Linked DNA regions of Homo sapiens. The protein of the gene in region 2 interacts with the protein of the main gene of each other region in a pairwise test. Each region holds a gene or a part of one and is shown on either strand. Other genes may lie near its edges. The genes, in order: PTPN11, CCKBR and ATP13A2.

The links.
Region 1: the proteins of CCKBR (region 2) and PTPN11 interact in binary tests that used the Homo sapiens proteins (3 or more experiments, as listed by UniProt).
Region 3: the proteins of CCKBR (region 2) and ATP13A2 interact in a two-hybrid assay, tested with the Homo sapiens proteins (one study listed by BioGRID and IntAct).

Annotation. Positions count from the first base shown.
Region 1 is NC_000012.12:112,508,121-112,510,514, reverse strand, and holds the end of PTPN11 (tyrosine-protein phosphatase non-receptor type 11), read right to left. Parts: 3' UTR 597-2,394; downstream 1-596. UniProt on the Homo sapiens protein: Acts downstream of various receptor and cytoplasmic protein tyrosine kinases to participate in the signal transduction from the cell surface to the nucleus. Positively regulates MAPK signal transduction pathway. Dephosphorylates GAB1, ARHGAP35 and EGFR.
Region 2 is NC_000011.10:6,269,800-6,272,747, forward strand, and holds the end of CCKBR (gastrin/cholecystokinin type B receptor), read left to right. Parts: coding exon 1-121; intron 122-288; coding exon 289-538; intron 539-846; coding exon 847-1,004; coding exon of another isoform or gene 1,005-1,211; coding exon 1,212-1,744; 3' UTR 1,745-2,328; downstream 2,329-2,948. UniProt on the Homo sapiens protein: Receptor for gastrin and cholecystokinin. The CCK-B receptors occur throughout the central nervous system where they modulate anxiety, analgesia, arousal, and neuroleptic activity.
Region 3 is NC_000001.11:16,994,912-16,998,569, forward strand, and holds part of ATP13A2 (polyamine-transporting ATPase 13A2), read right to left. Parts: intron 2,265-3,658; coding exon 2,109-2,264; intron 1,586-2,108; coding exon 1,475-1,585; intron 1,390-1,474; coding exon 1,343-1,389; intron 1,254-1,342; coding exon 1,065-1,253; intron 1-1,064. UniProt on the Homo sapiens protein: ATPase which acts as a lysosomal polyamine exporter with high affinity for spermine. Also stimulates cellular uptake of polyamines and protects against polyamine toxicity.

The DNA.
Region 1 (2,394 bases), on a different chromosome or scaffold from region 2:
AGAGCTGATGTCCCATAGCAGATAATTTACTCCTCCTCCAAGCCTCCTTACCATCCCTTTACTTCTTATTCCCACCTAATACTATTTACATTCAGTTCTGTGTGTTTTCTAACAATTTCCTCTGTGTGTGTGTGTGTGTGTGTGTGTGTGTATGTGTGTGTGCGCGCGCGTGCGCGCACATATATATTTTTGGGGGGCATGCAGTGAGAGTAGGTGAGAAAGGGTCTCACTATGTTACCCAGACTGGTCTAAAACTCCTGGGCTCCTGGGTTCAAGGAATCCTCCCGTCTCAGCCTCCAAGTAGCTGAGATTACAGGGGCGCGCCACCATGCCCAGCATTTCTTCTATAGTTTACACAGACTATACTTTTTACTCTTGAGTTACTCATATGTTCTCCCAGATAGAACTCCCTATCTCCTAAAGCTATTTCTACAGGAAACACTCAATGAATTCTTCAGGAACTCATGCCTTTATTCTATGTTCCAAGTCACTTCTAGATAAGAGCTGCTAAATGTCAGTATTTTGCCAGTGTGAGAGGTGGAGTGACCAATAATCCCATTTTTTTCCTGGACATTTCTGATGAAGCAAACGACAAATGCCATCATATAAGAAAATGGTTTTATTCCTAATTTTTAGTTCCCATACAGTTTACAAATACACTTTTACTCTGATAATACAGCTTTGCAACTAGCAAAGCAGTTGCGCTAACACCCATAAATATAGGTGGGGAGACAATTAACATCCACTAATGTTTCTCTACATAAACTATTCTTTTAATGTCATTTTTTTAAGAACAGTTGCAAATAGACTACATAATATACGTGGGCAAAAAGGCAATTAAGTGAATCTCTTGAAACACTAAATGTATAATAAACAGCATATTATCAACATTTACATGATTCACATCAAAATGATGACATCCTAAAACGTATTCCTTTTAAAGGATAGATTTATCAATAAAATATTACATATCTTTTAATACTCTGGTACAATACTTCATATACTGCAGGAAAATTAATTGTAGGTCTAGTCATCAGCTTAATCAGGGATCCTTTTCCCATTAGCTTTTATTAATAAAAGAATCACAATTAGGTCATAAATAAACAGGCAAATTATTAATTACATGATTTGAGGCTTAGGATGAAAACTTGTCAAAATTAGTTTGATATACAGCAAAGTTATACAACACACTAAAACCAACTGTTCAATAGTTTTTGCCTTGTGTGAACTGCCCATAGTGAAAAAGGAACAAATTTTTAGTGATGAAAGATACAATAAACTATATTTTGGAACTTTTCAAGAGGAAGAAGGAAAAAAGATTTCAACAAAATTAAGGGCAAATACAGATCCTAACAAAGGCATCCTGACATCAGGGAGGCCATGTGCTTGCTATGTGTGAAAGTTGATCCCCCAACAACATACAGAAAACAAAAGCTGCACTGGCTTTGTAGTTATGTCTATAGTCTAAGTTTCCCTTATGGATACTAAGCTACAACAAAACACTTGACAATTGCAAACCTTTCCACATCCCCCTGAATTAAAAATAACTCAAGATGTTATTAGTTCTTAAAATCCCCAATAAAATAACCTCTAAAAATAATCTTGACCATTTTCCTGGCTGTTTCCCCGAAGCAACTTGGCTCTTTAAAGAATGCACACACACCAAGAAAGTCCTACCCGTGTCTCCTCATCCCCATTTAGCCACATTTGAAAAGACCTTGGTTTCAGTGGGAGAGATGACCATAAGTTTCAGAAGGGCCACACACTGGACATGAAGCGCCTTTTAGTTTTTTTTAAAAAAAGTTATTAAGACTGTGAAATTTGGCTTTTTTTTTAAACTCCAATACCTAATGTGCCAGATAATTCTTTCACCCCAAAATATAAAATCCTATGCTTATAATTTTAAAATCCTCAGTGAGCTATGGAATATTGTGCATATTTAATACCCACCAGCAACCTAGAAGTAGATGGCATCCATGTGTCTGTCACACCGACTTTCCAAACAACCTCATTCACCCATTACTGACTGCTCTGGCCCTGGGCGCTCTGACTTCCTCAGAAACCACCTCTTTGGAACTTTCCTTTCCACAACTTTTTTTTTAAAACTTCACCTCGAGCTTTCTCCATCATCCCAGCCTCTCTGCCTGATTCCATCTCATGTAAAGTAAACTCGTCTGAGAACCTGCGATCACCTTTTACCAAGCACATGATAAGCCGTAGCAACCTAGGGACTATGATAACTCTGGCCTTGGCCTAAGTTTACATAAGAACATGATAGTTTGCTGACCTCGTGGAGGGAAATCTAAATGAAATCAATATCTTATAACAAAACTAGCCAAGATCAGGTATTTCCATTCTGAGTATAAAAGCAACTGATCTTAAGCAACAGGCAGA
Region 2 (2,948 bases):
TCACTGGCAGTCAGCGACCTCCTGCTGGCTGTGGCTTGCATGCCCTTCACCCTCCTGCCCAATCTCATGGGCACATTCATCTTTGGCACCGTCATCTGCAAGGCGGTTTCCTACCTCATGGGTGGGTGAGACAACCACCCCACCCCCACTTGCCACTCTCCCCGCCTAAAGCTCTTGTGGATGTAGGGGTCTTCCCCGGTTGGCAGGGAGGGGTGTGAGGAAGTCCCACTGATGCTTGTGTAGTGCAAGTTTCCTAGGTGACTCCTTCCTTTCTCTTCCCTTGTTTAGGGGTGTCTGTGAGTGTGTCCACGCTAAGCCTCGTGGCCATCGCACTGGAGCGGTACAGCGCCATCTGCCGACCACTGCAGGCACGAGTGTGGCAGACGCGCTCCCACGCGGCTCGCGTGATTGTAGCCACGTGGCTGCTGTCCGGACTACTCATGGTGCCCTACCCCGTGTACACTGTCGTGCAACCAGTGGGGCCTCGTGTGCTGCAGTGCGTGCATCGCTGGCCCAGTGCGCGGGTCCGCCAGACCTGGTGAGCTTGCCCATAAACTATCCTAGGAATTCCTTTCTCACCCCTATTAGATGCTTACGACCATTGCCCAGAATCTTCCTCCAGCTTCCCGGAGAATTACCACGCCAACTCCTATTCTGCATCCACCACCCTGGAGTTCCAGTTTGGGGCCCCTCCCCAGTTCTCTCTCCCTTCCCAGCGGCACCCCCAAATCCTACTCCTACTTCAGGTACCTGGCCACAGCCCTAGAAACACTAGTCCTTGGCTTTTTCTCCATCTGTGATTACAGCTGGACAGAAACCCGAGTGATCTGTCTGTGTTGCCTTCAGGTCCGTACTGCTGCTTCTGCTCTTGTTCTTCATCCCGGGTGTGGTTATGGCCGTGGCCTACGGGCTTATCTCTCGCGAGCTCTACTTAGGGCTTCGCTTTGACGGCGACAGTGACAGCGACAGCCAAAGCAGGGTCCGAAACCAAGGCGGGCTGCCAGGTGGGGCTGGACCACGTGAGCAAAATCTGGGCGAGGCGGAGCTTTGGAGGGCGACGGGGCCTGCTGGAGTGGGTGGGACTGAAATGAAGGTGAGGGTGAGAAGGAAGCTGGAAATGGAGTTGAGCTGGGAGCGGAGGTCAGGTGGGGACTGGGCTGGAGACTGGGGGGACTCGCCTTTTTCTCTGACCGCCCACCCTTTGTGCTCAGGGGCTGTTCACCAGAACGGGCGTTGCCGGCCTGAGACTGGCGCGGTTGGCGAAGACAGCGATGGCTGCTACGTGCAACTTCCACGTTCCCGGCCTGCCCTGGAGCTGACGGCGCTGACGGCTCCTGGGCCGGGATCCGGCTCCCGGCCCACCCAGGCCAAGCTGCTGGCTAAGAAGCGCGTGGTGCGAATGTTGCTGGTGATCGTTGTGCTTTTTTTTCTGTGTTGGTTGCCAGTTTATAGTGCCAACACGTGGCGCGCCTTTGATGGCCCGGGTGCACACCGAGCACTCTCGGGTGCTCCTATCTCCTTCATTCACTTGCTGAGCTACGCCTCGGCCTGTGTCAACCCCCTGGTCTACTGCTTCATGCACCGTCGCTTTCGCCAGGCCTGCCTGGAAACTTGCGCTCGCTGCTGCCCCCGGCCTCCACGAGCTCGCCCCAGGGCTCTTCCCGATGAGGACCCTCCCACTCCCTCCATTGCTTCGCTGTCCAGGCTTAGCTACACCACCATCAGCACACTGGGCCCTGGCTGAGGAGTAGAGGGGCCGTGGGGGTTGAGGCAGGGCAAATGACATGCACTGACCCTTCCAGACATACGAAACACAAACCACAACTGACACAGGAAACCAACACCCAAAGCATGGACTAACCCCAACGCACAGGAAAAGGTAGCTTACCTGACACAAGAGGAATAAGAATGGAGCAGTACATGGGAAAGGAGGCATGCCTCTGATATGGGACTGAGCCTGGCCCATAGAAACATGACACTGACCTTGGAGAGACACAGCGTCCCTAGCAGTGAACTATTTCTACACAGTGGGAACTCTGACAAGGGCTGACCTGCCTCTCACACACATAGATTAATGGCACTGATTGTTTTAGAGACTATGGAGCCTGGCACAGGACTGATTCTGGGATGCTCCTAGTTTGACCTCACAGTGACCCTTCCCAATCAGCACTGAAAATACCATCAGGCCTAATCTCATACCTCTGACCAACAGGCTGTTCTGCACTGAAAAGGTTCTTCATCCCTTTCCAGTTAAGGACCGTGGCCCTGCCCTCTCCTTCCTTACCCAAACTGTTCAAGAAATAATAAATTGTTTGGCTTCCTCCTGAACTTCCTTTCTGGATTCTTCTGGGGCAGGTGAGGAGGCATAGGATTTTGCAGTATCCTTCTGTCGGGTCTCTCCCACTGTTGCACACTGCTGTGCACAACCCCTTGCCAGAAAGCCCAGCCTCTGAGGTTCAGCGTGGCTGTGCATATTCTTTCTGAGTTTTCATCCTCTACCTACATTCCAATGTTGCAATAACTGTGAATGGGGATGGAAAATGGCATATCCATGACATATCATGATTCCTGATCACATTATCCCAAAGTGGTGCCACTGTTAAGGTACTATATTAATGGATGCTTATTAAATTTTGATGAAAAGATAAAAGAGGAAGCACTGTATAATAAGACTAAGTTTATTCAATGTGTGTTTGAAACACCAGAGATCAGACCATGACAGGTATACAGAATGAATACAGTTAATTAAAGAGTAGGGATTTTTTGCTGTACTCTCTTCCCCAGTGTCAAAACCTGGCCAAGATTCTGCCAAATGGAAGCACTTTTAGTAGCTACAACAAAAAAAGACCTGAATAGGAGTCTGAGAACCCAGTCTCCCTTTTACTATAAGAATGATCTAGCCCCAGAGACAGGCAAAGACCAACAATATCACCTCTTTACACACAATG
Region 3 (3,658 bases), on a different chromosome or scaffold from region 2:
TCGGCCTCCCGAAGTGCCGGGATTCCAGGCATGAGCCACTGCGCTGGGCCCCCTCCCCAGTTTAAAAGCGCTCTGTGGCCCCCGACAGCCTCTGAATGTCACCTAGCCTCTGTCAACCAGGCCACTGCCTACCCGGCCCTGTCCTGCTCCACCACTCCCTGTGCTCAGGTACGCAGCACATCTGTGCCACGCCACTCCCTGTGCCCCAGGCACACGGTACATCTGTGCTATGACACTCCCACCTTTTACCCTTGCTTCTCCTCGACCTGCCCCTCACTGAGGTCACTGAGGGACCTGCTCAGGGGGCTTCCTTGACTGCCTTCTCTCTAAGGAAGTGTCCCCATCTAGAACCCATCAAGCTATCCCACTGGCTTCCTTCCTAAAACCCACTGCCCACTCCTCAGCCCCAGCAGCTCCTTTGTGCACTCCTGGATCACTTACTTTGGTGGGGGACACACACACTCCAGTGACCACAAGGATGCCTGTGTTGGTCACTGCTGGGCCCCAAGGGTTGGGAGCAGCACGGGATGCACACTAGGGCCCCAGGTCCCCACCAGTAATTTTTTTTTTTTTTTGAGTTTTGCTCTGTCACCCAGGCTGGAGTACAATGGCATGATCTTGGCTCACTGCAACCTCTGCGATTCTCCTGCCTCAGCCTCCCGAGTAGCTGGGATTACAAGCATGTGCCATCATGCCTGGCTAACTTTTGTATTTTTAGTAGACGGGGTTTTGCCATGTTGGTCAGGCTGGTCTTGAACTCCTGACCTCAAGTGATGTATCTGCCTCAGCCTCCCAAAGTGCTGGGATTACAGACGTGAGCCACCGCGCCCGGCCCCCCACCAGTTCTTGAACACATGAATACATGATTCTAGACATTTCATCTGCCAGACCGTGAGCCCAGTGAGGGCAGGAGTGGGATGGGGTGGATCCTCTGGGGGTTTCCATCCCTAGACAGGACCTGGCATCCTGTGGGTGCTGCTGAGAGAATAACGCGGGTGTGGAGGCCTCACTGGGGCGCCTGTGGCTGTCCCGCTCCCCTGCACCAACCCCACCTGCGGCCCCACCTTGTCGAAACACACCAGCTGCAGCTTGCCCCCCAGGTTGATGCGCAGTGGGTGGATGCAGAAAATGCCCTGTCTCCGCAGTCGGCTCTGGGCGTAGAGCGTGCACACAGTCATGGCAGCAGGCAGGGCAGGTGGCACCACCACGGTCACCAGGTCGAGAGCCCGGATTACAATCTCATTCAGAGGCACCTGGCAGGGGGCACCATGAATGTGAGCACCTGGCTGGTTGGCCCCTGGGCCCTGCTGGCAGCACCCCCCACCCCACCCCCAAGGCTTACCCGGTTTCGGTAGAGGATGAAGATGCTGTAGATGGTGCCGAGGAGAGCTGTGGGGACAGCGAAGGACTGAGTGGGATTTGGGACCCAGGTGGGGGGGGCTATGGGCAGAGGAGGGTGCAGGGGGCCACTCACCCAGGACAGAGAGGGCAGCCACAAACTTCATGCTGTGTTTATAGAACTTGAAGTTGATGGGCCGGGGGTGCAAGATGGAGCTCACCAGGCCCCCTTTTGCCGTGCAGAACCCTGGGGAGGAGGCGGGGACCCCAAGGCAGGGAAGCCAGGGTGAGGGCAGGCCTTCCCCACCCCTAGCCCTCCCGACCCGTGCCTCTGGAGTTGCAAGACATGATGTTTGTGAAATTAGCCATCAGCAGTGTGGAGTCCTAACAGGTCTGGCCCGGCTCTTGTAGGCTTTTTAAGGGCTTTAAACAAGGAACTAGTGGATAGCATCTAAACACTGGGTGGTTCCACTGAAAATCCAGACACAGGGAAGGCTCCTGCCTGCCCGCTACATCCCTGCCCGCTCCAGCACTGTAACCCCGGCGGCTCCTCCAGATCTTGCAATGCTTGGCCTTAGTCTGGCCCAACTTCTGCTAAGATGGGAATGCTCAGACCCCAGATGGGGGGCAACTGGCCCGAGGTCCCACAGCAGGGCAGCAGCAGAGGTGGGCGTGGGGTCCAGGGTTCCAGGTCCCACCCTGCCTCACTCCACCTCTCCCAAGGGTGCTGAGCCCGGGATCTCTCTCAAGCCCAGCCTCCCGGCTCATACCTGTGCGGGTCACCACTGCCAGGACGTGCGGTCCCACATAGGCCCGGGCCTGCAAGATGAGGGTCCCGCAGAAGAGTGTGTGCCGCCGGTGTGTCTCTGCACAGTAGGGCCCCAGCCCCTCCGGCAGTGCCGTCTTCAGCACTGGAATGCTCTCTCCTGGTGGGGAACGTGGTGTGAGGACCACTCCACACCCCTCCCTCCCACCAGCAAACCAGGAGTTCTGTGTAGAATTGTCCCACAAGCTCTAAGTCTCAGTTAACTCTGTAACCAGGTGTGAACAAGAAATCACAGCCCCATTTTACAGAGAGGAACACTGAGGCTCAGAGAGGACGGAGATATAAAGGCACAGGGAGACACTCCTGGAAGCAGGTGGCAGCCAGCTCCCTGGAACCAGCGGGGGGGGGTGGGTCAGACAGAGCATGTGTGGGCATCATGTGTGCAGTGGGGCAGGGTGGGGGAGTCGTTCTCTTTCTGCTGGAATTATTTTATAACATGCATGGAGTGCTTTTCTAACTCCAACCAACAGAAATATTTACAAGGGGCCAGATGCGGTGGCTCACGCCTGTAATCCCAACACTTTGGGAGGCTGAGGTGGGCAGATCACTTGAGGCCAGGAGTTCGGGACCAGGCTGGCCAACATGGTGAAACCCTGTCTCTACTAAAATACAAAAATTAGCCGGGTGTTGTGGTGGGCATCTGTAATCCCAGCTACTTGGGAGGCTAAGGCAGGGTAATAACTTGAACCAGAGAGGCGGAGGTTGCAGTGAGCCGAGATCGTGCCACTGCACTCCAGCCTGGACAACAGAGTGAAACTCTGTCTCAAAAGAGGAGGGGAGGGGAGGGGATGGGGTAAGGAAGGGGAGGGGGAAGGAGGAGGGGGAGGGGAGAGAAATATTTACATGGAGGGGGCAAATATTTCCATGAGTTGGAGTGAGAAAAGCACTGCATGCTCGCCATGGCCCTGTGAAGTCCTGGGCAGGCTGCCTAGCAAACAGTGGCACTCCCTTACTGAATGCCTGCAGGCTGGGACTATTGAGCACCTACTGTGTGCACATTCCTGCAAGGGAGTCAGACAATCCTGCCATGTCTGCCTCACAAGAGATGAGCAGATGAAGTATGTGTGGACAGTTTGTGGAGGGCAGGGCTCAGGGCGTGTGCCCACAAATCATACTGATCACAATTACTACTTTTTTTTTGTTTTCTGAGACGGAGTCTTACTCTGTCACCCAGGCTGGAGTGCAGTGGTGCGATCTCGGCTCACTGCAACCTCCACCTCCTAGGCTCAAACGATCCTCCCACCTCAGCCTCCCAAGTACCTGGGACGATAGACGTGCACCACTACACCTGGCTAATTTTTTGTATTTTTGGTAGAGATGGGGTTTCAACATGATTTCCAGGCTGTTTTCGAACTCCTCACCTCAGGCAATCCACCCACCTCTGCCTGCCAAAGTGTTGGGATTACAGGTGCGAGCCACTGCGCCTGGCCTACGATTTGTGATACAAATACAATGCCAGCCAGAAAACTTCCCTGGAAAAAAACCACTATCCTG